Linked DNA regions of Homo sapiens. The protein of the gene in region 6 purifies or fractionates together with the protein of the main gene of each other region. This does not show direct contact. Each region holds a gene or a part of one and is shown on either strand. Other genes may lie near its edges.

Region 1 (3,238 bases), on a different chromosome or scaffold from region 6:
TGAAAGCAACAAAAACATACAGACATTTTCCACAGCCAGCGTAGGAACAGCTCCTCCAAATATGGGGGCTTCCTTTGGGAGCCCAACGTTTAGCTCAACTGTTCCAAGCACAGCCTCTCCAATGAACACAGTCCCGCCGCCACCAATTCCTCCAATTCCAGCGATGCCATCTCTGCCACCAATGCCATCCATTCCCCCAATTCCAGTTCCTCCTCCAGTACCTACATTGCCTCCTGTGCCTCCTGTGCCCCCGATTCCCCCAGTTCCTTCTGTGCCACCCATGACCCCACTGCCACCCATGTCGGGCATGCCGCCCTTGAATCCGCCACCTGTGGCACCTCTACCTGCTGGAATGAATGGCTCTGGAGCACCTATGAATTTGAACAATAATCTGAATCCTATGTTTCTTGGTCCGTTGAATCCTGTTAACCCTATCCAGATGAACTCTCAGAGCAGTGTGAAGCCACTCCCCATCAACCCTGATGATCTGTATGTCAGTGTGCATGGAATGCCCTTTTCTGCAATGGAAAATGATGTCAGAGATTTTTTTCATGGGCTCCGTGTTGATGCAGTGCATTTGTTGAAAGATCATGTAGGTCGAAATAATGGGAATGGATTGGTTAAGTTTCTCTCCCCTCAAGATACATTTGAAGCTTTGAAACGAAACAGAATGCTGATGATTCAACGCTATGTGGAAGTTAGCCCTGCCACAGAAAGACAGTGGGTAGCTGCTGGAGGCCATATCACTTTTAAGCAAAATATGGGACCTTCTGGACAAACTCATCCCCCTCCTCAGACACTTCCCAGGTCAAAATCGCCCAGTGGGCAGAAAAGATCAAGGTCAAGATCACCACATGAGGCTGGTTTTTGTGTTTACTTGAAAGGGCTACCATTTGAAGCAGAAAACAAACATGTCATTGATTTTTTTAAAAAGCTGGATATTGTGGAAGATAGTATTTATATAGCTTATGGACCCAATGGGAAAGCAACTGGCGAAGGCTTTGTAGAGTTCAGAAATGAGGCTGACTATAAGGCTGCTCTGTGTCGTCATAAACAGTACATGGGCAATCGCTTTATTCAAGTTCATCCAATTACTAAGAAAGGTATGCTAGAAAAGATAGATATGATTCGAAAAAGACTGCAGAACTTCAGCTATGACCAGAGGGAAATGATACTAAATCCAGAGGGGGATGTCAACTCTGCCAAAGTCTGTGCCCACATAACAAATATTCCATTCAGCATTACAAAGATGGATGTTCTTCAGTTCCTAGAAGGAATCCCAGTGGATGAAAATGCTGTACATGTTCTTGTTGATAACAATGGGCAAGGTCTAGGACAGGCATTGGTTCAGTTTAAAAATGAAGATGATGCACGTAAGTCTGAACGCTTACACCGTAAAAAACTTAATGGGAGAGAAGCTTTTGTTCATGTAGTTACCCTAGAAGATATGAGAGAGATTGAGAAAAATCCCCCTGCCCAAGGAAAAAAGGGATTAAAGATGCCTGTGCCAGGTAATCCTGCAGTTCCAGGAATGCCCAATGCGGGACTGCCCGGTGTGGGACTGCCCAGTGCAGGACTTCCCGGTGCAGGCCTGCCCAGCACAGGACTGCCTGGTTCAGCAATAACCAGTGCAGGACTGCCTGGTGCGGGAATGCCCAGTGCAGGAATACCTAGTGCAGGAGGTGAAGAGCATGCCTTCCTGACTGTAGGATCAAAGGAAGCCAATAATGGGCCTCCATTTAACTTTCCTGGTAATTTTGGTGGATCAAATGCCTTTGGGCCACCAATCCCTCCTCCAGGATTAGGAGGCGGGGCCTTTGGTGATGCTAGGCCTGGTATGCCTTCAGTTGGAAACAGTGGTTTGCCTGGTCTAGGACTGGATGTTCCGGGTTTTGGAGGTGGACCAAACAATTTAAGTGGGCCATCGGGATTTGGAGGGGGCCCTCAGAATTTTGGAAATGGCCCTGGTAGCTTAGGCGGTCCCCCGGGGTTTGGAAGTGGCCCTCCTGGTCTTGGAAGTGCCCCTGGGCATTTGGGTGGGCCACCAGCTTTTGGGCCTGGCCCCGGCCCCGGCCCCGGCCCTGGCCCAATCCATATTGGTGGTCCCCCTGGCTTTGCATCTAGTTCTGGAAAACCAGGACCGACAGTAATTAAAGTGCAAAACATGCCCTTTACTGTGTCTATTGATGAGATTTTAGATTTCTTTTATGGCTATCAAGTAATCCCAGGCTCAGTGTGTTTAAAATACAATGAAAAAGGTATGCCCACAGGTGAAGCCATGGTGGCCTTTGAGTCTCGGGATGAAGCCACAGCTGCTGTCATTGACTTAAATGACAGGCCTATAGGTTCAAGAAAAGTAAAACTTGTATTAGGGTAGCCATTCACATCATTTTTTATAGGGTAGATCTTCATATTGCTGTGATTAATGCATCCAGATTGTTTTCCTAGTATTTCCAGGTTAGAACCTGTGGATTGTTTCAATTGCATATAGCTTGGTTTCCATAACATAGAGCATTGGTTGACTGTTTACAGAAGACTCACTCACCAGGATAAACATTGCTGTATGTTACAGTAAAGCTATCTGGAGAGAACACATAAATGATTTTGGCATACCATTAGAGAAACCATTTGTAAAACTCAAATGACCACATAAAGCTTATCAAGGAGTCTAGATTGGTTTTGTTTTATACCATATGGGATGAAGAAAATAGAAATGTCAGTAGAACTCATTGAGGGTGCTCTTGCCAGCTGCTGAAAATAGAAGTTGGCTACTCTCAGAATTTGGTTTAAAGCTGGACAGATTTGCTTTGTTATAGGGTAAAGCTTTGTCTAAAGTCCTCATTTTCTTTTAAAATTGAATAAAATTTCTGTATACAGATTCATTGTATGTACCTTTATTGCTTCTTAAGGGTCCTTGCTGTATAGACAGTCCTGCTTCAGAAGTTGCTGCTTTGTTTGTCTAATTGACTCATTTGTAAATGAGCAGAACTGTTTTGTTGGTTTTTTTCCCTAAATATAAAAGTCCACACTTCGTTTGTGCTATAACCTCAAACTTTGATTTCTAATGTCACACTTAAAACTGTGTGGAATAAGACTTTTGCCATAAAAATAAACTATGGAGTCCTTTATCTACCAGAGCCTTTTTGGTTTGACCGCCACGATTTAGGTTAGTCAGTTTAAAAATTGTTCATGTTGTTTGGATGGTATCGAAAACCAGAAACCACTTTTAATAATGTGT
Region 2 (2,374 bases), on a different chromosome or scaffold from region 6:
CCTGCACCATCAGTTCTGAGAACATGCCAAGCTCTTATCTGCTGCAGGCTCTTCCACTCAGTTCTCTCCAGCTTTTTGAACACTGTGCTCCTTCCAGTTCATCAGGCTTCAGCCTCAATGTCACCTCCTCAGAGAGCCCTTCCCTGACCACCTATTTGAAGTAGTTCTCATCACAGCACTGTCTCTATTCTCTCATAATCCAAATCACAGTCCTCAGTTTTGCTGCTTGTTTATTTATTTATTACCTGTGTCCAAAACCAGAATGTAAGCTCCATGAGAACAGGGAGCATCCCTAGCCCCTTGCATAGAATCTGCCACCTAGCTGATCTTTAATAAATGTTTGCAGATTGAACCCGTACATCAAAATATTTTATGACTTTCACATATTATGTAAAAGTCCAAGTTCCTCGGTGTGATATTCAAGTCCCCAATAACCTTTTCTTCACCATTCCTATATTCCAGAACATTCCTTGATACTTTCCGATGTGACATCTTGGTTGTTCATGTCCTACCATTTACCTAAAATGCCCTCCTATCATCTGTATATCTTTTATGGCCTAGCTCTGCCTCTCACCCCTTCAAGGCTTCTCTCTATTTTGGGAATGAAAACCCAGCCAAAAGCCACTTTTGTAATTACTTTTGTGATTTCAAACAAACAAACAAACTCCCCAGTTGCTTCAGTCAGAAACAATAACCAACTGCCTTGTTACATTCACTGTGATGTGTGAATGTCTGCACCAAATCACATGCACACAGAGTTCTACGCTGTCTCATAGTCTCAGCCACTGTAAAATCTTTCTTCTTCTTCTGCCCCCACAGGTTTTCTGTTCCCCAGAGCCACCTGCCAAGACCTCTACCCCAGAAGACTTCATCCGAATGACCAAGGGTATCACCATGGCAACCGCCAAGGCCGTTGCTGCTGGCAATTCCTGTCGCCAGGAAGATGTCATTGCCACAGCCAATCTGAGCCGCCGTGCTATTGCAGATATGCTTCGGGCTTGCAAGGTAGAAATCCTTGAGGCATTTCCGTGAGGCAGCTTTGGGCCAGAACATAGTGGGAGAGAAACTGTAGGGATCTGCGGGGCCTAAAGCTAACATATTACTCTGGGGACAGGAAGCAGCTTACCACCCAGAAGTGGCCCCTGATGTGCGGCTTCGAGCCCTGCACTATGGCCGGGAGTGTGCCAATGGCTACCTGGAACTGCTGGACCATGTACTGCTGGTAAGGGAGGGCGTTGCTTGTTCCTCATACCAGCCTCCCTGAATACACAGCCCTCTTCCTGCAGGCCTCGCACCCTGCTGTCTGTTTTGCTCAGATCTCCTCCCTACCCCACCCTCTACTTCCCAAATCTGTTCTCCTTTCCAAGTCTCCCTTTCTCCCAGGCCCCATCCTTCTTATCATCTTTGGTTCTCCCAGTCACCTCTTCCTCTTCCTCTTTTTCTTTTCTCCTCCCTTCCCACCTGACCACCCCCTTCTCTACTTTCGTCGTCTCCTCTTTCATCTCATCATTCTCCTTGCTCCTTGTCAGCCGGTGAGTGACACAGCCCCACTGTCTCTATCACGTGTGAGGTGTGATGCATGATGTGTACTTGGATAGGCAGCGTGGAGTTTGAGGGCTATGGTGTGGAGTGCTCTAGGGATAGGGGTGAGGGGGCCATGGTCTGCCCTATTTCATAGATCAGGGTAGACCCTAAGATGTGATGCTCTTTGTCCCCTGCCCGCTTCTTGCCCAGACCCTGCAGAAGCCAAGCCCAGAACTGAAGCAGCAGTTGACAGGACATTCAAAGCGTGTGGCTGGTTCCGTCACTGAGCTCATCCAGGCTGCTGAAGCCATGAAGGGTGAGGGGTGACCAGGGACAGGGACGGATGGAAAACCCTTATCATGGTGTGATCTCTGCTTCCTGGCTGGACAGCTCTGTGCTAGCCTCTGACCATAGTCCCCACAGATGCCAGGGCCTGATGATACTAACCATGCTCCCTGGTGCTTTTGACCTCCCCACTCTGCCTTAGCCTCTTTCCTCTTCCTTCATCCCACCAGGAACAGAATGGGTAGACCCAGAGGACCCCACAGTCATTGCTGAGAATGAGCTCCTGGGAGCTGCAGCCGCCATTGAGGCTGCAGCCAAAAAGCTAGAGCAGCTGAAGCCCCGGGCCAAACCCAAGGTCAGTCCTGCTCCCTTCCTCTTCCACCCTCACCATGGCAGTGTCCCCACCTTCATCTCTGACTTTACATCTCTTTCTGCAACCTTCGCTTATTGCAGGAGGCAGATGAGTCCTTGAACTTTGAGGAGCAGATACTAGAAGCTGCCAAGTCCATTGCAGCAGCCACCAGTGCACTGGTAAAGGCTGCGTCGGCTGCCCAGAGAGAACTAG
Region 3 (3,500 bases), on a different chromosome or scaffold from region 6:
CACCTTTGAATTTTATGTCAGTGTAGTATAGATTATAGAAACACCTCGACTTTTTCTAGTTCTACAGTCTGTCCTGTTTTGAAAGTTGTTTCTATCAACATTGAGTTTTGTTTTGTTTTGTTTTTGTGTTACTGGAAAATAAATATGCTTGATCAGATTGTTTTGACTTCTGTCAGGCAAAGAAAATACTAAAATATCATTCATTTTTCTCAACCTGATTTTTGGAACATAACTGCTGTTGTCCCTTAAACTTATGAAACATAATTTCTGCTATGAAAATTTTCACCCAATTTTATTTTTCCATTTTCTTTAGCATAACTCTTTTTCAGTTAACCAGTTGATGGTTAACAACTTTGAGTTACTAAATTTTGAAGCAATTTTTGTAAGTAACTTTTATAAAGTAAACATTTTGTACTGTATCTTCTGAGGTTGATTGTACTATGAAAACTTCACTGTGTGAGTAGGATCATATTCGTTCACTCTGCAGAAGAGGTACAATTCTAGCCAACAGATCTCACAGCTGTTATAAATTCACCAGTAAGGCATGTTTTAGAAGATATTATCTCTGTTTACCTGTGACCTCTCCTATGCTTTTTTTTTTTAATCTCCCAAGGAAAATCTCCTGTAATTTTACACTGTTACCTATAGTTTTATCTACTTGTAAGCTGTGGGCTCAGTTATTTAAAACTGAGGAATTTTACAGTTTTGCCTCTTTCTTTTTTGGTTGAAGTAGTACAAAATGTCAAAAATTAGAAGGAAGGTCACAGTGGAAAATACCAAGACTATATCTGATAGCACATCCCGAAGACCCAGTGTATTTGAGAGGCTTGGACCCAGCACTGGCAGTACAGCAGAGGTGAGTTGTCACTAGTATAGTCACAGGGGTTCTCTTAGAATTCTATTATTGAAATGCTTATTTGTATCATAAAGGTGAACAGGTTGTTTTATTGTAGGAATGTTTGTTCAGTAAATTTTTTAAAGTGTGTTTTATAAAAAGAAGTGAAAAGGGTGATAAGGTTTATGGGTTTTTCCATATTTTTTTCCTGAAGTTTTTATTATTTGGGGAGTAATATATCACAGGTTAGCTGGAATTTTGGTAGCATTTGTTTTAATTTTGTCCCGCTAGCATTTTTTTTTTCCAGAAATAAATATGAAATTTACATAGTAATATCTGTCTCTTAGACACAGTGCCGTAACTGGCTGAAGACTGGCAACTGCCTCTATGGAAACACATGTAGATTCGTACATGGCCCTTCACCTCGTGGTAAAGGTTATAGCAGCAATTATAGAAGGTAAACTGAGAACTTTGTATTGTTCATGTACTATTAGAAGATGGCTTTTGTAATTTATCTAGTATAAAAATCTGAAATACAACCATATATTTGGTCAGATTTTCTATATTGGTGGTAGTCTTACCAGTAATTGAAGATCGACAGGATCTTTTTGTTATTTTCAAGATTAATAAAATGTTTGCTTTCAAATTAACTTATTTGTTCATTATTTATTTGTTTTGACAGTAGATCTTTTTGTAGTATGTGTATGGCTTACTTTTTCCCCCCTAATTATGTATTAAATTGCTGCTTAAGACAGCAGAATTCCATGGTGTCTGAATTTCTTTTTAGTGAGGCTATTTTTAACTCTTAAAATAGTAAAATTCAAATAGGGTATAATTTTAGCTGTTTAAGATGTTCTGAATTCAAATTTTGTACAAATTCTATAGGTTAAAATGCATTTGCCAAATCCCTTAGCACAGTATGTTAATGAAAATATGTATTTATATGTGGATGAATATGCTCCATATTTCGAACATCGTTTTGCCTTTAATAAAGGCTTGGCTAGATTAAACTTGCTTAATAAAGACCTTTTATTTTTCTTTTGGTTCCCTCATGATGATTATTTTATGGTATTTAAAGATGTAATATACATAAAGTTTGTCACAAAAACAGTTTTAACTTGATTGGTAAAGAAATAATTTACCTAGATCCAAAATTGGTTACACTGATTGTTTTGGCTATAGCATAGCAACACTATAAAAACTGAACATTAGCAATTGGAATTTTTTTTTTTTTTTTTTAGTTGAATGATTTTTTTGGGGGTAGTGTATGGGTAGATTTTGTTTAGGAGAATTTAAAATTCAAACCCTCAACATTAGCCAACTTCTTTTTCACGTAAACATTGTACATTTTAGTTTATTTGTGATTCTGAATACTGTTTTATTTGTATTTAGATTGTCATTTGTCACTTCCGTTAATGTGGGAAGATTAGTGTTTATTGTATATGTGTGTTTACTTGTATATATACACGTAGATACATACCTGGTGAAACTATTTCGATACTTTTAATGTTTTGCTTTAATACTATACTTTTGATACATTTTAAAATTTATCTTTGAAATTTATTAGCTGACTCAGAATTTTTATTCAAGAAATCATTTTGAGAAAAATGGTCAGAGAAATTTGTCTAAAATGGGAAAAAGTAATGTCATTGCTAGACTTAGAATAAAGAATATTTATTATAATTTTGCTATTTTGTGTATGATTTTCCATCTGATAACTTCTTTCGTATTTGTGCATTTTTTTTGTCGGGAGGAAAAACATAGTTCATAATGCGAGTCAAAGATAAGAAAAGCAATGTATTTTACAGAATGCTTATTTATATGTTTATATACAAGACTTTTACATAATTAATTGAGAATTCGCTGTGTGTAAAACATTCATTCTGTTGGGTGCTGTTTAGGATAGAAACAAGTTCATACTAAAGTGTTTTATTATATAAAGGAAACCAGGGCACATAGGATTTACATGTACATCATTATAATTTAGAGCACTTAAGTACTGGTTCTTAGTAAGAGATTCCAGTTTCAAGTTTAGCTTTAACTGTTAAAACATTTAATATAAATCTATTACATGTGCATGTAAACATTAATGAGATCCTTTAAAGTGAATTAACTCAAATTATTTCTTTACTAACCTTATGATTTATATTCATAAAATCAAGGAACTGATTTGATTGCCCAATGACTGCTTGAAATAGATGTGAATATTTATGTGATTTGTTTATATCTTTTTTATATATAGTACTTTTTGGTAGTCAAAGAGGAACAGAGCATTCCTTAACTTCTTTTGCCCTGTTTTAAAGGTGTTGTAGAAATAGTCTTTAAAGGCAGTCTGTTTTCCATCTCTCCTTTGTTTTTTCCCACTGATAGTGAAAATAATTGCATAGCCATATACTGTCAAATTTCTAGTATAAATAATAAAGCCTTACCACTGTTGAGTATAAATATGTATTTTTCCTTTAGTTAAAAAATTTACAGCAGAATATGAAAATCACTGTTGTAAAATTGCCTTGAATCCTTTATCTTTATTCTGAAATAATTTAAAATTTAAGATAAATTTTAAAGCTCCTATATTTGCTTTGATTCTTACTTAAGGTACATAAAATATTTTCTCAGTTATTGATGTTGCATCCAACCACAGGCATGTGTATACAAGAAACTTATT
Region 4 (4,056 bases), on a different chromosome or scaffold from region 6:
GCTTGTTCTCTCCTCCCCTTCCCCCTCCTCCCGGCGGCTCTCCACTTCCTTTCCCCCCACCCCACCCCAGGGAAAAACGAAAACAAACACCCTCGCGCCTCGCGCCTCCGACTCCCAGACCCCACGACCCGGCTCCGGCGCTGGTTTGGCGGCCTGGGTGGGAGAAGGCACCTCGCCCCGGACCCCCTATGCCCCGCAGCTCAGTGACTCTTCCCCTCGCCCTCCGCCTTCCCCGCCGCAGCCCGGCTCCGCCTCCCAATGGGGAAACATCCCAAAAAAGGGCAGAAAAGAAATTTCAGCATAAAGTTGGCCCACTGGGAAAGAGAGGAGCGTCCGCGGGGAGCGGGGGAGAAGAGGGAAGGCGCGCGGAGGGGAGTGGGGCCAGGCGGAGCCAGGGGCGGGGAGCGGAGGGGCTCGGGACGCGTCCGGGTGGGAGCGGGGGCGGGGAACGCGCGGTGACCAGCCTGGCCGCAGCCGCGTGGAAAATATGCGGGGCACGTGGGGGGCGGGGCGGGGAGCTGGGTCCTGAGCCGCCGGGTGCTCGCAGGAAGGGCCTGGCTCCAGGGGCAGGGGCTGGGAGGGGAGGCGAGGGGATGAGAGGTCAGGCCGGTCCTGGGGGCAGCAAGCCCGGCCACACTCCCCACCGCGACCGGGGCTCTGGGCTCGCTTCCTGCTTCAGTTTCCCCAAGCTCCCGATGAGACTCCGCTACTACCACCACGTCGATAACGCAAACCTAGAGGGACTCAGGGTAAACTGAGGCACTCAAACTGCCGAGGAGCTCCGCCTCCCGAGAGACATTTAATCCGGGGGGATTTGCAGGAAACTTCTAAATTAAGGGTAGCGGCTGCTGCAGCTGAGGGGGGGCACGCCGGTCCCTGCGCCCGGGCAGCTGCCGTGAGCTCACGCCCCGAAATAGCCCCAGGGGCCCCAGCCGCAGCTGCCACTGGGTCCGGCTGTCACTCAGAGGAAGCACGGAGCCCCCAGCCCAAGGGTCCCCTCCCCTTCGCATCGCCGGGGTTTTTCCAGCCGACCGTCGGCCACTTTTTCCTCCGACGGCTGGCAGGGAAGAGGGGGATGGGGGCGGGACCCCAAGGGAGGCGGTCCCCAGTGGGTGGGCGAAGGGGGCGGCCGCACCCCCCGGCCGGGCCGTGCTTCTGCCCCTACAAGGTTTGGGCCGAGGTGGGGGAGGGTCCTGGTTGCCGGCCCCGCCCGGTCCCTCCCCGCCTTTTAGGCGCCCGCGTGGCCGGGACGTCCCAGTCCCGCTCCGTCCTCCTCGCCTGCCACCGGTGCACCCAGTCCGCTCACCCAGCCCAGTCCGTCCGGTCCTCACCGCCTGCCGGCCGGCCCACCCCCCACCGCAGCCATGGACGCCATCAAGAAGAAGATGCAGATGCTGAAGCTGGACAAGGAGAACGCCATCGACCGCGCCGAGCAGGCCGAAGCCGACAAGAAGCAAGCTGAGGACCGCTGCAAGCAGGTTAGGGCCGGGCCCAGTGCAGCCTGCTCTCCCCGCGCCTAGGGCAAGGGTGGGCCGCTGCCATGGGTCCCCCAGCCCCGGGCCTGCCCGCCAAGGCTCTCTCTCACCCAGGGTGGGGGCTGGGCCTTCGCAGTACCCTCAGGGCCTTCGCCAGAGCCGCTTCTCTCCCCTACAATAGCCTGGGGAAGCCCCAGGCCCCTGGTTTCCACTCTGCCTTTGCAGAGCGCGGTTGGTCCTGCTCCTTGGGGCCTGAAGTTTTCTCTGTACCCTCAACGGGTCCCACCAGTACCCTTGACTGTACTGTCCCTTTTATGTTATTCCGCTTCCATCCCAGTAGCCTCCAAATCTTAGTAGCGCCCCTACACACACCGCGTCTCCATTCTGGGCCTGGGCCCCCTCCCAGCCTGGCTGACCAAGTCCCCTCTGTCCCAGCTGGAGGAGGAGCAGCAGGCCCTCCAGAAGAAGCTGAAGGGGACAGAGGATGAGGTGGAAAAGTATTCTGAATCCGTGAAGGAGGCCCAGGAGAAACTGGAGCAGGCCGAGAAGAAGGCCACTGATGTGAGTGTGGACTTGGGGGACAATGGGAGGAGTTAGGGCTCTGGGAAGGGGCCCCCCGGGTATGGGAATAAGAGGATTGGGGCACCTTATCCCCTTATGTCCCCAGCGCCAGGAGAGAAATGGTTTCATCTCAGTAACCAGGGCTAGGGTAAACTTACACAAGTAATCCAAGACAGTGGATAAATCAAAACCACCTACCACTTCCCCCAGAGGACTTAGCCCTGTAATTCTGTTTGGTTCCAGCTTTTAGAATGTACAGTGATCAAGCAATGAGTCATTGTGGGGGTGGAAGGTATAAGAATTTACCATCTACCTCAATTAATCCTCCAGCTGAAATTGGAGAGGAGACTGCAGCCGTTTGGGGATGGGGGGATGTGGATGTGAGGTACTAGCCTGCAGGAGGAGGGAGAGGGATCCAGAGATGAGACCCCACTTGAGTTACAACCCTAAGGGGCCATTAGAAATTCCCTGGCCTTGACCTCTGGCTTCAGCAGCCCTGCTGTGCCCTGGGGCCCCAGCTCAGGTTCTAATGGCTCCTCATTTACCCTCATTAAGCTGTCAGCCTGGAGACCATGCCAGGCCACAGGGCAGAGGGACAGGGCCACAAATGCCAAAGCAGCTACCTTGGCAGGTCATTTACCCTGAGATTTCTCTGCCCACCCCACAACCCCAACCAGACTTCACTTCCTGCCATTCCCAACCCCCAGCTTAAGGTAGGAGAATGGCCATATGGCTTTGGTGTGGTGGTAGTTTCCCCATTCTCTGCCTCAGTTTCCCCATCTTCCTTCCACCCAGGATTGTTTTAAGATGAACCTATGGTTAGATTAGCATAAAGCATGGTCTGAACATCAGAGATGACATAGCTGTTTGTGTCGACTGCTCATGTTCCCAGCCCCCCAGGGGTTGGGCTTCTGTGACCTCCAGCCTCCAGTTTTGGTTCTCCACCAGTCCTGGCACTTGGGAGGGAGCTGACCTGCAGCTGCTAGCACAGACAACCCTGGGCATCTGACACTCTATAAATAACCAAGGCCCAGTGCAGCTGGAGGCAAGATTGGAAACCCAAGTTGCTGGTGGGGGCTGGAGGGGCAGGGGGGACAGGGACAGAGCTGGGGAGGCAGAGCCGCAGCACCAGGAGCAGATAGGAAAGACTGCCCAAGCTTCCTGGTGACCTTGAACACAGCACTCAACTTACATGGTGCCTCAGTTTCTCCCTCTCTCTTGCTTCCCATTTTTCTAATGGGGACAGTAGTGCCTGTCCTGTGGTTAGAGAGCCGCCCCCGTAACTGGGAAGAGCTTGAGAGGCAGGAAATGGCACATATCAGTCCCATGATGAGGACCCCAGGACTTCCCAAACTTTCCAGAGTCTTTTGTCACCCCACCATCATGCAGAGTTTTTCTTTTACAGTCTCACCTCTCTCTAGGGTAGTACTCCAATGTCCCCCACAGTGATTCTTCCCAACCCCCAATGCTGTCCCCAGAATGCTTCCACACTGTCATCCGGCCCTGTGCCCATGATGGGCTCTTGTCACTCTAGGTGGCCAAGCTCCAGGTGCCTTCAGCACCTGGAAGACAAGCTACCATCTACTCTCTATATATGGTGCTGTTTCTCCTGCCCTACAGTCCGACCAAGGACCTGCTTCCTATGCTGTGTCCAAGTGCTGCCCCCAGCCCCTCCCCCCACCTCCTTTCCCTACACAGGTCCTCTCTCCTTTCCACTCTGAAATCTCAGGGTCTCTGTGTCCTTGTTTTTGACAGAGAAAGGGGATAACCTAATATTTATGGAATGTGGACCCTGTGCAGGCAATGTACTCAGTGCTTTCTGCATGTTATTTTACAATTTCCCAAACTTGGCTTATCATCAGAATCACTCGGGGGCTTTAAAAAAAAAAGAGAAGATTCCCAAGCCCCCGCCCTACACATCCCAATTCAGTGGATCTAGCATGGAGTAAGAGAACCTGTTTAGTTTTATGAGTCTCACCGAAGGTCCTGTTGATTAACTGAGTATTAAAAGCAGTGGATT
Region 5 (3,500 bases), on a different chromosome or scaffold from region 6:
AAAAAGACTTTATGCGAATTCTCCTTAGAACTAACAAATTGCTTGTTTGATTTTTGCATTCTTCAGCCTGGTATTTGGTACCTTTAGATAGTGTATGCAAGACGCATTTTTCTGAAGTTTTCAGTGCTGGCAGCAGGATGCCTGTGGCACTATCATCCTGAGATTGTGCACTTGCAAACACAAGTGTGTTTTGAGCAGGCCAAAAAGTGTCCCACATTCTTCAGTCTCCTCTTTGAAACCCAGTGTCCCAGGATACACATTTTTTGTTTTTAAGTTATCATAATTTTTATTGACTCTTGCAGAAATTTTTCTGTTCCTTTGTGTCCTACTCAGTACTGTATGTGAAGTTCAAGGTTGAGTTTGGTCTGTAATGTTAAAAACATAACATTGAACATTGTTATCTGAGCAAGTCTTTATGGACTTTTGATCCTAACAGTATACTGATCTTACATTTCTGAATTTAGTATCTAATTATAAAAGATTTGTGCATATAATTGTTCTTTGAAATTCCTCTTACCAAAAAAGGGCACCCCTCAGGCATAGTTCAGTAAACCTAAAACAGCATATCTTCAAATCTTAATGTAGTCTATTTTTTATTACAGAGCCCAAATTCCGTTGAACTAAGGTACCATAATTACTTAATCAGCTCCTATTTTAGGTTATTTCAGTTCTTCCTCTTTAAAAAAATATATATTTATATGAAATATTTTATTTTTATATTTATATTAAAATATGAAGTATTATATTCTAAATGATTTTCTTAATTTCTAGTTTAGAAGTGAAATTACTTTATCAGAAAACATAATTATGGCTTTCAGAGGATTTGTAAGTGCTTTATCAGTGTAAGTGTGTATCACTTTCATAGAAACTTAAGGTTGAATAGTTACATTCTAGGTTATAAAGTAAACTTAATTTAGAATAAAATTAGTTTACACCTTTTCATGATATAGTCTTGAGGAAGGGGGCAACATGGTGTACTGGAAAATCCTAATGCCCTGAAGTGTCCATTGCATGTAACGAGTTAGCTTCCCTCCTATACATCTGAAAGGGTTCTATTTAGGGACTATCCTTGGTAAAATTGAGACAATAGTCACTCAAATCTTTTTCATATCCTCAGTATAGCATTAAAACTGCGTGGCCACTTGTGCAAATCACTTACAATCTTAAACTCACTTTAGAAAGGAGATACTATAATCTGCCTTCCAGGGTGGTAATACTGCTTTCAAGTTTGTCTCAATCCTTATCTAGATAAGTGCTTAACTGCTTTATACAAGTCAGCCATTACTAATGCTACTACTTCATTGCTTAAGTGTTCACTTTATTGGGAAACAGTGTAATAGGGGGAGTAAGAATGCTAGATTTGAAGTCACAAATTGCCTGGATTTGGAATTTCAGCTCTGCCATTTAGCTGTGTGGTATTGGGCAAATTAACCCCTTTAGTGTCGGGTTTCTCAAGTAAAAAATGAAGTTATCATAGTAATAACAAATGAGGCTATATTTAAAAGTGATTAACACATTTCCTAACACATTTTAAGCATCAATAAATGTTTTCAGTAATTATTGTTATGTGATTATTGTATTAGTTATTTATTACTACATAAGAAATTACTTCAGAAACTAGTGGCTTAAAATAACAATACATGTTTATTATTTCCTTGTTTCTGTGAATCAGGAATTTAGGAGCAGCTTAGCTGGGTGGTTGCGGTCAAGCTGTCAGCAGGGGCTATGATCATCTACATATTATTTTGAACCTAATGGTTATAAATTTTATATTTTGCAGACTATGTCTTCAGCAGTGGTGCAGTTATATGCAGCAGATCGGAACTGTATGTGGTCAAAGAAGTGCAGTGGTGTTGCTTGTCTTGTTAAGGACAATCCACAGAGATCTTATTTTTTAAGAATATTTGACATTAAGGTGAGTTTTGTTTTGCTTTCACTTTAAACTAGGTGATTAGGTTTTCTATATCAATTATAATTTAGTTTAGATTTGTTTATCCTATATGTGATATTTAAATTTATACATAAACTAATATTAGAAGAGTGAAGCTTGGTTTTTAGATATTGCATACGGAAATCATGACCAAATGGGAACATGTCTGAAGCCAGAATGTGAATAGTTTCCTATTTTATCTTTCTCCTGCTACCACGCATTAAGGCTTTTTTTTTTTTTAAATTATGCCTGTTGGTTCTTGGGCTTTCTTTACACTCTGTATTTTTTTAATGAAACTCTTTTATTCCACCTGGTTCATTATAGAATAGCGTAGATAGTCTGTTCAGGTAACAACAAAATAATATTTTAGCTCAGTATGTACTGTTATTTAGCCCAGGTTTAAAACATTTCAATATCTATAAAAATCTGTTTGCTACTCATTTTTCCTTATATTGTTTCTCATGATAGATATATTCAGATTTTCATAGCTTTATATCCCTCCCTTCCAATCATAAATCACATTGTTATAGATTGAATACCTTGTTAGGTATTCATTTCTTACAGTTGTCATAAAAATATTTTGCTAAGATGAAGTCTCCATTATTTTTTTAAAAAACCTTTCTGTAAGTAAGCCTCCATGATTAATATTTATATGTGGCAATAAGTGCAATGAGATTTTAATTACAAAAAACTAAAACTGCCTTTAAACTCTTGGGCGCTAATATGACCTGATAGATAACAGTGAAGAGATTTTTACACCTCTGGTCTCAGCTTTATTTGTAAAATCAGATAACCATCTTGGTTTGTTATGAGGTATTTCACTGAGATTAAATGAGATCTCAGTTATGGTATTTGGTAAATTAGTGCTTCTTTTGTTGTTGTTGTTGTTGTTTTGAGACAGGGTCTTGCTCTTGCTCTGTCACCCAGCCTGGAGTGCACAGCTTACTGCAACCTTGATCTCCTTGGCCCAAGCAATCTTCCCACCTCAGCCTTCTGAGTAGCTGTGACTACAGGTGCATGCCACCACACCTGGCTAATTTTTGTATTTTCTTATAGAGATGGGTTCTGCTGTTTTGCCCAGCCTGGATTCAAACTCCTGGACTCAAGTGATCCTCCTGCCTCAGGCTCCCAAAGTGCTGGGATTACAGGCCTGAGCCACCAGTCCCGGGCTAAATTAGTGCATCTTAATGTCTGCTTCCAAGACAGCTGAGAGATATGACATGCTTCTGTCACTAGCAGTGGCTTACTAGTAATCACTAGCAGTGGCTAACTATGGCAGTGATTCTGGGGGGTGGGGAACACATACGTAGTTTGAAAGAAACCCCCAAGTGCTTTGACATATTTCTCATAACCATTGAGAAGCACTATTTAGAAATGGCATACACTTACTACTCCACTAAGAAGAAAGGGATTCCATTGCAGTGGTTATAATGTGTGAACAGTGTATTTTACATATTTTTAAATTGTGGTCTAGGTAGAACCTTGCATTTCTGAATAGGGCAATGACTATCTTTCTCTAACCACTTATTTCCAATTGCTGGACACTCATAATTCGTCACCTTTGGTATTA
Region 6 (3,500 bases):
TGCATCTGGCCTCCTCAAACTATCTAAAAGCCCCACTTTGCCTAAATGAAACATTTACCTACCACACAAGAGAACTGCGTGGTTAGAGAATAAAATAAAAATACAAAAAAATTAAGGACAGTAAGAACAGACTAATGACCAACTAGCCTGAGATAGCTTTATTTTTAGGATAAGAACTTAACCACTTAACACTACTTTTAAGTATATTATGTGAAAATGTACATAAAAATTGATCACTTTATTTTTATTTATTTTGAGATGGGGTCTTGCTCTGTCAGCCAGGTTGGAGTGTACAGGCACCATCTCAGCTCACTGCAACCTCCGTCTCCTGGGTTCAAGCGATTCTCGTACCTCAGCCTCCCGAGTAGCTGGGATTCACAGGCATGTGCCATCACGCCTGGTTAACTTTTGTATTTTTATTAGAGATAGCGTTTCACCATCTTGGTCAGGCTGGTTTCAAACTCCTGACCTCAGGTGATCCACCCGCCTCGGCCTAAAAATTTATCATTTTCAACAGAAAATTTTGCAGTGCTTTTAGGAATTAACGTGTGAATCTGAATAGTTTCCAAATTAACACATCTACTTTTATTCATACTTTTTCAAAGTGGCTGACTAAATATTCTGAAACGTAAGTAGCATTACTGAAAAGCAAGGCTGGAATTAAATAATGCAATTCACCAGGAAAAAAATGGCAACATTTTATCTAGTACCTATCTCCTCCCTTCTCAGAATTTTTTGAAAGTATTTTAAGTAGCTACCTGAATTCCTACTTTTCTAGTAATTAGCATATTTTAAATATTCTGAGTAATTATTTATACAGGTTTTTTAGAAACATACCAGAAGTTTTAATACCGATTTCAACAAACGCTCGATTGTTTTAATGTAAAATTTCACCATACACATTATGTATATAGAATGGCTTACCTCCAGTAACTACCAGACACATAACAAGTATTGAAAAATATACACAAGATCCAAGCACCACTAACTCAATTATACTACCAATGGTCTTAAACTACAGTGGATATAAATTTCCAAACTCCAAAAACAAAAAACAAAACAAAAAAAAGTGTTCAACTATAAATTTCAAAAGAAAACAAAGACCATTCCTAAACTGGGGATTTTACTACTTACATAACTTTGCACAATGCAAATAAATTTTTAAAAAACTGTTATGAAGATTTACCTTCATTTATTTTAGATATGTCCACATTAGAATTATTAAGCTGCAGCGTGGCTTGCAAAGCAGGAAGCAATTGTCTAAGAAGATTTGGGTCCTGAAGTAAGGGAGGTATTGGCGACTGTGGAACAGGAGAAACAGGGACCGCTGAAGCAGATGTTGGAGGTGCAGATGTGGGGTTCAGTCCAGAGGCAGAAGACGTGGAAGGAGTTGTGCAAGAATGTGATACGGGTTTGTCTCCTGATGTAGATTCTAAATAAAAAGATAATCAGCCTGAAAAATTACCTGAATAGAGAAAATTGGAACAAACATCAAAGGAACACCTCTCATGTGCCAGGCACCTAACGTAAGTAATCTCATTTAACCCTTACACACTGGAGCACACAGAAGATGCTCAGTAAACATTCACATGACTAGAATAATGATTTAGACATTTCTCACCCTATTTCATAGGTAAGAAAGCTGAACAAGAAAGGTTAGATAACCTGAAGCCATAAAACCTGGTAAATCATACCCATATCTGATTTGAAAAGTACCAATCTGTCTACCACCAATGCTATCTCAAAGATAATTATTTATTAACCACACATTCAAATAAGCTTCCATTAGGATAAAAGGACAATATAATTCTACAGGATTTAATTTATATCTCATGAAATAAGGTGAAAAATGTTTATGGCCACAGTAACAACCTACCTCAATAAGACACTGGTCTTAATACAAATCAGGGTAGGTACACCAAGGTGGTTACACCCAAAATGGGCTAAAGATGTGATGAGAAGAGACTTTTATACTTAATAACTGAGTTTTGTAACTACATACTTCCCTTTTGTAATTCAATATATAAGGCAATGAGCTATTTGTTTCATTTTAAGATTATTAAAAAGGACACTTTAATATTAAAAACAACCCACCTCATAGTATTTAGAAATAAAGGATGTATAAAATACGCATGGAAAATTATTTGAAAGCTGTTGTTTCAATTATTTATATAGATTTAATGTAACTGTAATCAAAGCCCCAAGAGCACTGTTAATACTATTTGACAAGCTAGTAACATAAATCCTGAAGATTCCATAACCTGAAGAAAAAGAACACTGCCAGCAGGACATGCCCTGCCAAATATAAAAACTTACATTTAAAACAAAGCCAGTTAAAGGTAGACTGAACTTTTGTGTAGGTATTTAAGTCTTTAAAACTCTTAGAGGAAAACACAGAAAGGTATCCATAACACCAAGCAGATGTGTAAAGTTACAAAAAGCAGAACAATTATATTCAAAGTAGTGGTAATCAGACTATTTAAAGAATTTCTATACGTCAAAATAGACAAACTGCCCAATAGAAAAATGTACAGAAGACATTATTTCAAAGAAGGAACTTGAATGCCTAGGAAATTCAAGAAAAGATGCTCAACTTCATTCAGAATCAGGACAATGTAAAATAAAGCAACATAACCCTTTACACTCACCATAATGCAAAAATTTTAAAGTCAGACATACCAAATGTTGGCAAAGAGTAATGAGAACATTTACTCAACATTTCTGATGGATAATAAATTGATATAACCACACTGGAAAGTAATTTGGCATTATTTAGAAAAGTTGAAGATACGAACACTACATGACCCAGTAATTCCCCTTTAGGTACACACCCTCAGTGAAACTCAGATATATGTAAATCAGGAGAAAATTCAAAGACTATCACAACAGCACTCTGTTTGCTTTTAGTATAAAACTAGAAACAACCTATTTCTTTAAGATTTTCAAGATCATATATACAGTACTAGCAAGCTTATTGAAAACAGACTCCCCTATGAGTCTTTTTACACTACTATAATGGTCGAAAGAACTAGGGATAATAGCTCTCTAAAGTGTGGATCTCACAGCTGATTTAAGTACATTTCAAAAATGTGTTGATTAACCATGATGAACTCAGAAGGACTAAGATATTTTTATTTGCGTAAGGGTATACACTTTTAAAGGAAGGTGCTTGAATCCAGCAGACTGCCTATTATTTTCAGCTTTACTGTTCTGGATTCATAGACAAGCATAAAGAAACTCAAATAAAACGATAAATGTTTTCCTTGCGAAAATTCTGCTGTCAGATGGACGTGGTGGCTCACGCCTATAATCCCAGCATTTTGCAAGGCTTGAGCCCAGGATTTCCAAGACCGGCCTGGGCAACACGGCAAAACCCCGTCTCTACTAAAAATACAAAAAATTAGCCAGCTGTGGTGGCTTGCGCCTGTGGTCCCAGCTACTCAGGAAGCTGAGGTGGGAGAACCACCTGAGCCACGAAGTCGTGGCTGCATTAAGCCGTG
Region 7 (3,500 bases), on a different chromosome or scaffold from region 6:
CTTCTGCTTATATCATAAAGCTGTACTTTCAATGATAAAATGAATACAGTATATATCAAGTGTGCTGACATATATGCTGTGTGTGTATGTGTGTGTGAGAGAGAGAGAGAGAGAAAGAGAGAGAGAGAAACAGTGGCACATCTTAATCCTCTGGTAGAACTAAATGTGGTGATAGCGATTTAGGCAGATTTTAGCTTGGAGATTTGAACCCCTTAAAGAGATGGGAAGTATGGGAGAAAACCTGCTACTCTTTAATTATATGGATAAAATAAAAATGTTTCCTTTCCCTTTCCTTCAGTTAAATAATGACAGGTAGGCGTGTCATTCAGCTCACCTTCATTTTCTCACTATTAAAAGGGTCTTCGATGTCTGTGAATTTGTATTAATTTTAAAATTAAATGTGCACAATAGTGGATTAAAAAATAATTTTACTTCATAGCAACCTTTATTTCCCTAGCAGTACTCTTGCAGTAAAATTGTGTCCAAGCTCCTAGCCAGTCTTAGTGATGTTCGAGATGCTTCAAAATGTCTTCTTTGAAAAACACCTTTCCTACTCCCCGCCAAAATAAATCACCTCCTTATCTAAAAGAACTATAAAAGAAGCATTTCTAGGTTCAGCAGACTTAAATTGACATTTACCATTAAGAAGACAACCTAATCAGACGTTGCTGAAGTATTGTTTTTCAATGATGATTGACTGAGAAAAGAGCAGTACATTTTGAGAAATGAGGGATTCTGTGTATGGCAAGCGTGTGCTCCACATTCAGCTCAAATGGAGACTAACAATGCATAAGAACCAACTGGGTGAGGCTGCTGATTTGCTAATAAAGCTGTTTTCCTCTTCTCTGCCTTTTGCTTCCTCTGGAGTCCAGCTGCCTTTTCTGTTTCCCCTCTTGTATCCATGGCTTATTGCTCTGAGCAAGGACCTTCAGCTTGGAGAGAGGAAGAGTAGCAATAATAGAAACGAACCTTTCTGCAAAGGTATTGAAAGTTTCTAAAATGGCCAGACCACATGCTGGGGGGAAGGGATGGTAGAGCTGTTGCAGTGACTCGCGTCATAAAATAGAAACTCCAGGCAACTGCAGCTGTGAAAAGATTGTGTTAAAGAAACAGGATGACTGTGGTTTACTGCGAGCATCAATTTTCCTGTTGAGCATTTTTTACAGGAAGTTGAAGAACAAAGCCAAATTCATCTTAATTAGTTCTAATGGTTTTCAGATCTTAAATACATCCAGCTAAGTTTGCATCATGGAGGAGTATCTAAAGAATAGAATCAAGAATAATTGAGTAGGAATCCCAAAACGACATGCTTTTTAAAATTCACCGTCTTAGCAGCAATTTGAGTTTGCTCGATGATTTTATTTTTGCAGGGTGACTTGGAGTGGATTCACTGTCTTTGTAATGAATGCCCTTGCAGTTATTTTTTATGGTTGTAATAACTCAATATGAATTTAAAAACCTTTTCTCAGGAAAACACTTTTGTGTTACATGTATTATAAATTTTGTTCTGTTAATATTTTTTTGTCAAACAATTGTGTGTATATGTGTATGTGTGACACAGAGAGAGAGAGGGAGAGAGAGAGAGATGTACATGTACTTATAAGCTGGAAGGACATGTATCAAAATAACAAAGAGTTACCTCTGGTTATTACCCCCAACCCTTTTTCATATAAAAATTAATTATTATTCAGTGCTTCCTTTAGTGGTTAAATACAACTTCAGTGCTTTTTTTTTTCATCTTTGTATATTTTTGTATTCTCTACAATATAAAAGAAAAAAAAGAAATCTTGAAGAAAACAACAACAAACAAAAAACTAACCTGAAGATGCCAAAAGCACTCAAGAAATACATAGATGAAAATGAGTTAAGAGCATTATATATAAAGTAAAATATAAATGAGTTCAGGCATGGTGGCTCATGCCTATTATCATAGCATCTTGGGAGGCTGATGCGGGTGGATCACGTGAGGTCAGGAGTTCAAGACCAGCCTGGCCAACATGGTGAAACCCCATCTCTACCAAGAATACAAAAATTAGCCAAGTGTGATGGCACACGCCTGTAATCCCAGCTACTCGGGAGGCTGAGGCAGGAGAATTGTTTGAACCCAGGAGGTGGAGGTTGCAGTGAGCCAAGATCGTACCACTGCACTCCAGCCTGGGCAACAGAGCCAGACTCTGTCTCAAAAAAAAAAAAAAAAAATCAATAAATAAATGTAAATAAAAATAGAAAATAATGAGGGCAAGAGAGCAGTTGGATTTTTGAATCTATCCAGTTATATTATTTCTGATACCCTCCCCCACCCCCAGCAAATAAAATATTCCTCTATTGATTCAATCTTTTTGGGGAAAAGAAGTTTAATATTCCACCATTCATTTTAGGTATGATAGTATTTAAGGGTTACTTTTAGCAACATTTATAGAGCAAAATGCTTTATATTTTTGAATAGTCCAAATTAATGATAAATGTAATTGGATAAAGCTGCTTCTTATCTTCTCTAATAGAACCCCTGCCCACTTGGGATTAGAGACCGGCCTTTGGAGGATTGTCAACTGTGTTCACTGGGGACTATTAGGAATCACTCCCCACCTCATGTCATTCTGTAGTGTGGGCCCTAGGCAGTGCAATCTAGAATTAATTGTAAGTTGGCTATGAAACTAAGAAACAGCTTATTTAAATAACTACCCCACTTTCTTGATCCCAAGGAAGGCAATCATTTTACATTCAGGGATGAGTCTGCTTTCCTAGATGAGCACATTGAAGAAGAAACCCTGAGTTTCCTGGGGCACGTCTGGACTGAACTGTGAGCTATGGTTGACCTCTAGTTGGCCATGCCATTGAGGAGAATGTGTCCCCTGTACTGTTGGGAGTGGGCTGAGCAGTTCTCTTTCTCTCACAGTGCTCGTTGTAGCGAACATTGCATGTTTAACAAGTGAGTCGAGGCTGCAAGATGCCCTAGTTGATCTGGGATCAGTGAATGTTGTCTAAATGTAAGTGTTAAACCATGATGTTGACCTAATAGCATTCTAGTAAGACAAACGATGCCAGCCATTTCATTCACAGAATGAACTAGGAAGTCCAGAATTTCTAAATGTTGGGGTGGTGTGTGTGTGTGTGTGTGTGTGTGTGTGTGTAAGCAACAAAGAAGAAACAGTAATTAAATTTTTAAAGTCATTTATGCAAATTATTTCACTCTGTTCTCTCAACCCATAAAGCCAGTTCCTTACGAAAGGGTTATTGCTAGATCCCTCCCCTTACTTCAGCTATTTTCACCTAAAATTTCATTATTTTTGAATGATTCATTCACTTATTAAATAAACCTTTGGCAGTCACTTACATACTCTAGGGTTCTGGCTGATTTTTAAATTTTTTAACGTATGACAATCCAGAAATATCTTGCTGAGAAATCAGTTGATGGATAGTTTATTCAAAGGCCATTATCTTATTGTTTCCACAATGGATAATAGACAAACGTATGTTGTTAAAACCATGTGTATTAATTT

The links.
Region 1: the proteins of WAC (region 6) and RBM12 purify together in Homo sapiens (affinity purification with mass spectrometry; 2 studies listed by BioGRID and IntAct, with this or other methods). This does not show direct contact.
Region 2: the proteins of WAC (region 6) and TLN1 fractionate together in Homo sapiens (co-fractionation; one large-scale study listed by BioGRID). This does not show direct contact.
Region 3: the proteins of WAC (region 6) and ZC3H13 purify together in Homo sapiens (affinity purification with mass spectrometry, with the first as the bait; one large-scale study listed by BioGRID). This does not show direct contact.
Region 4: the proteins of WAC (region 6) and TPM2 purify together in Homo sapiens (affinity purification with mass spectrometry; one large-scale study listed by BioGRID and IntAct). This does not show direct contact.
Region 5: the proteins of WAC (region 6) and WASL purify together in Homo sapiens (affinity purification with mass spectrometry, with the first as the bait; one large-scale study listed by BioGRID). This does not show direct contact.
Region 7: the proteins of WAC (region 6) and WIPF1 purify together in Homo sapiens (affinity purification with mass spectrometry, with the first as the bait; one large-scale study listed by BioGRID). This does not show direct contact.

What each region holds. Positions count from the first base shown.
Region 1 is NC_000020.11:35,651,663-35,654,900, reverse strand, and holds part of RBM12 (RNA-binding protein 12), read left to right. Parts: coding exon 1-2,377; 3' UTR 2,378-3,238. Other genes in the region: CPNE1 (copine-1), read left to right, coding at 1,359-1,373.
Region 2 is NC_000009.12:35,698,822-35,701,195, reverse strand, and holds part of TLN1 (talin-1), read left to right. Parts: intron 1-819; coding exon 820-1,005; intron 1,006-1,114; coding exon 1,115-1,222; intron 1,223-1,734; coding exon 1,735-1,840; intron 1,841-2,039; coding exon 2,040-2,164; intron 2,165-2,262; coding exon 2,263-2,374. UniProt on the Homo sapiens protein: High molecular weight cytoskeletal protein concentrated at regions of cell-matrix and cell-cell contacts. Involved in connections of major cytoskeletal structures to the plasma membrane.
Region 3 is NC_000013.11:46,042,747-46,046,246, reverse strand, and holds part of ZC3H13 (zinc finger CCCH domain-containing protein 13), read left to right. Parts: intron 1-730; 5' UTR 731-739; coding exon 740-856; intron 857-1,182; coding exon 1,183-1,292; intron 1,293-3,500. UniProt on the Homo sapiens protein: Associated component of the WMM complex, a complex that mediates N6-methyladenosine (m6A) methylation of RNAs, a modification that plays a role in the efficiency of mRNA splicing and RNA processing.
Region 4 is NC_000009.12:35,687,126-35,691,181, reverse strand, and holds the start of TPM2 (tropomyosin beta chain), read left to right. Parts: upstream 1-1,256; 5' UTR 1,257-1,364; coding exon 1,365-1,478; intron 1,479-1,910; coding exon 1,911-2,036; intron 2,037-4,056. UniProt on the Homo sapiens protein: Binds to actin filaments in muscle and non-muscle cells. Plays a central role, in association with the troponin complex, in the calcium dependent regulation of vertebrate striated muscle contraction.
Region 5 is NC_000007.14:123,707,504-123,711,003, reverse strand, and holds part of WASL (actin nucleation-promoting factor WASL), read left to right. Parts: intron 1-1,780; coding exon 1,781-1,915; intron 1,916-3,500. UniProt on the Homo sapiens protein: Regulates actin polymerization by stimulating the actin-nucleating activity of the Arp2/3 complex. Involved in various processes, such as mitosis and cytokinesis, via its role in the regulation of actin polymerization.
Region 6 is NC_000010.11:28,606,118-28,609,617, reverse strand, and holds part of WAC (WW domain-containing adapter protein with coiled-coil), read right to left. Parts: intron 1,433-3,500; coding exon 1,187-1,432; exon of another isoform or gene 1,176-1,186; intron 1-1,175.
Region 7 is NC_000002.12:174,591,305-174,594,804, reverse strand, and holds part of WIPF1 (WAS/WASL-interacting protein family member 1), read left to right. Parts: intron 1-3,500. UniProt on the Homo sapiens protein: Plays a role in the reorganization of the actin cytoskeleton. Contributes with NCK1 and GRB2 in the recruitment and activation of WASL.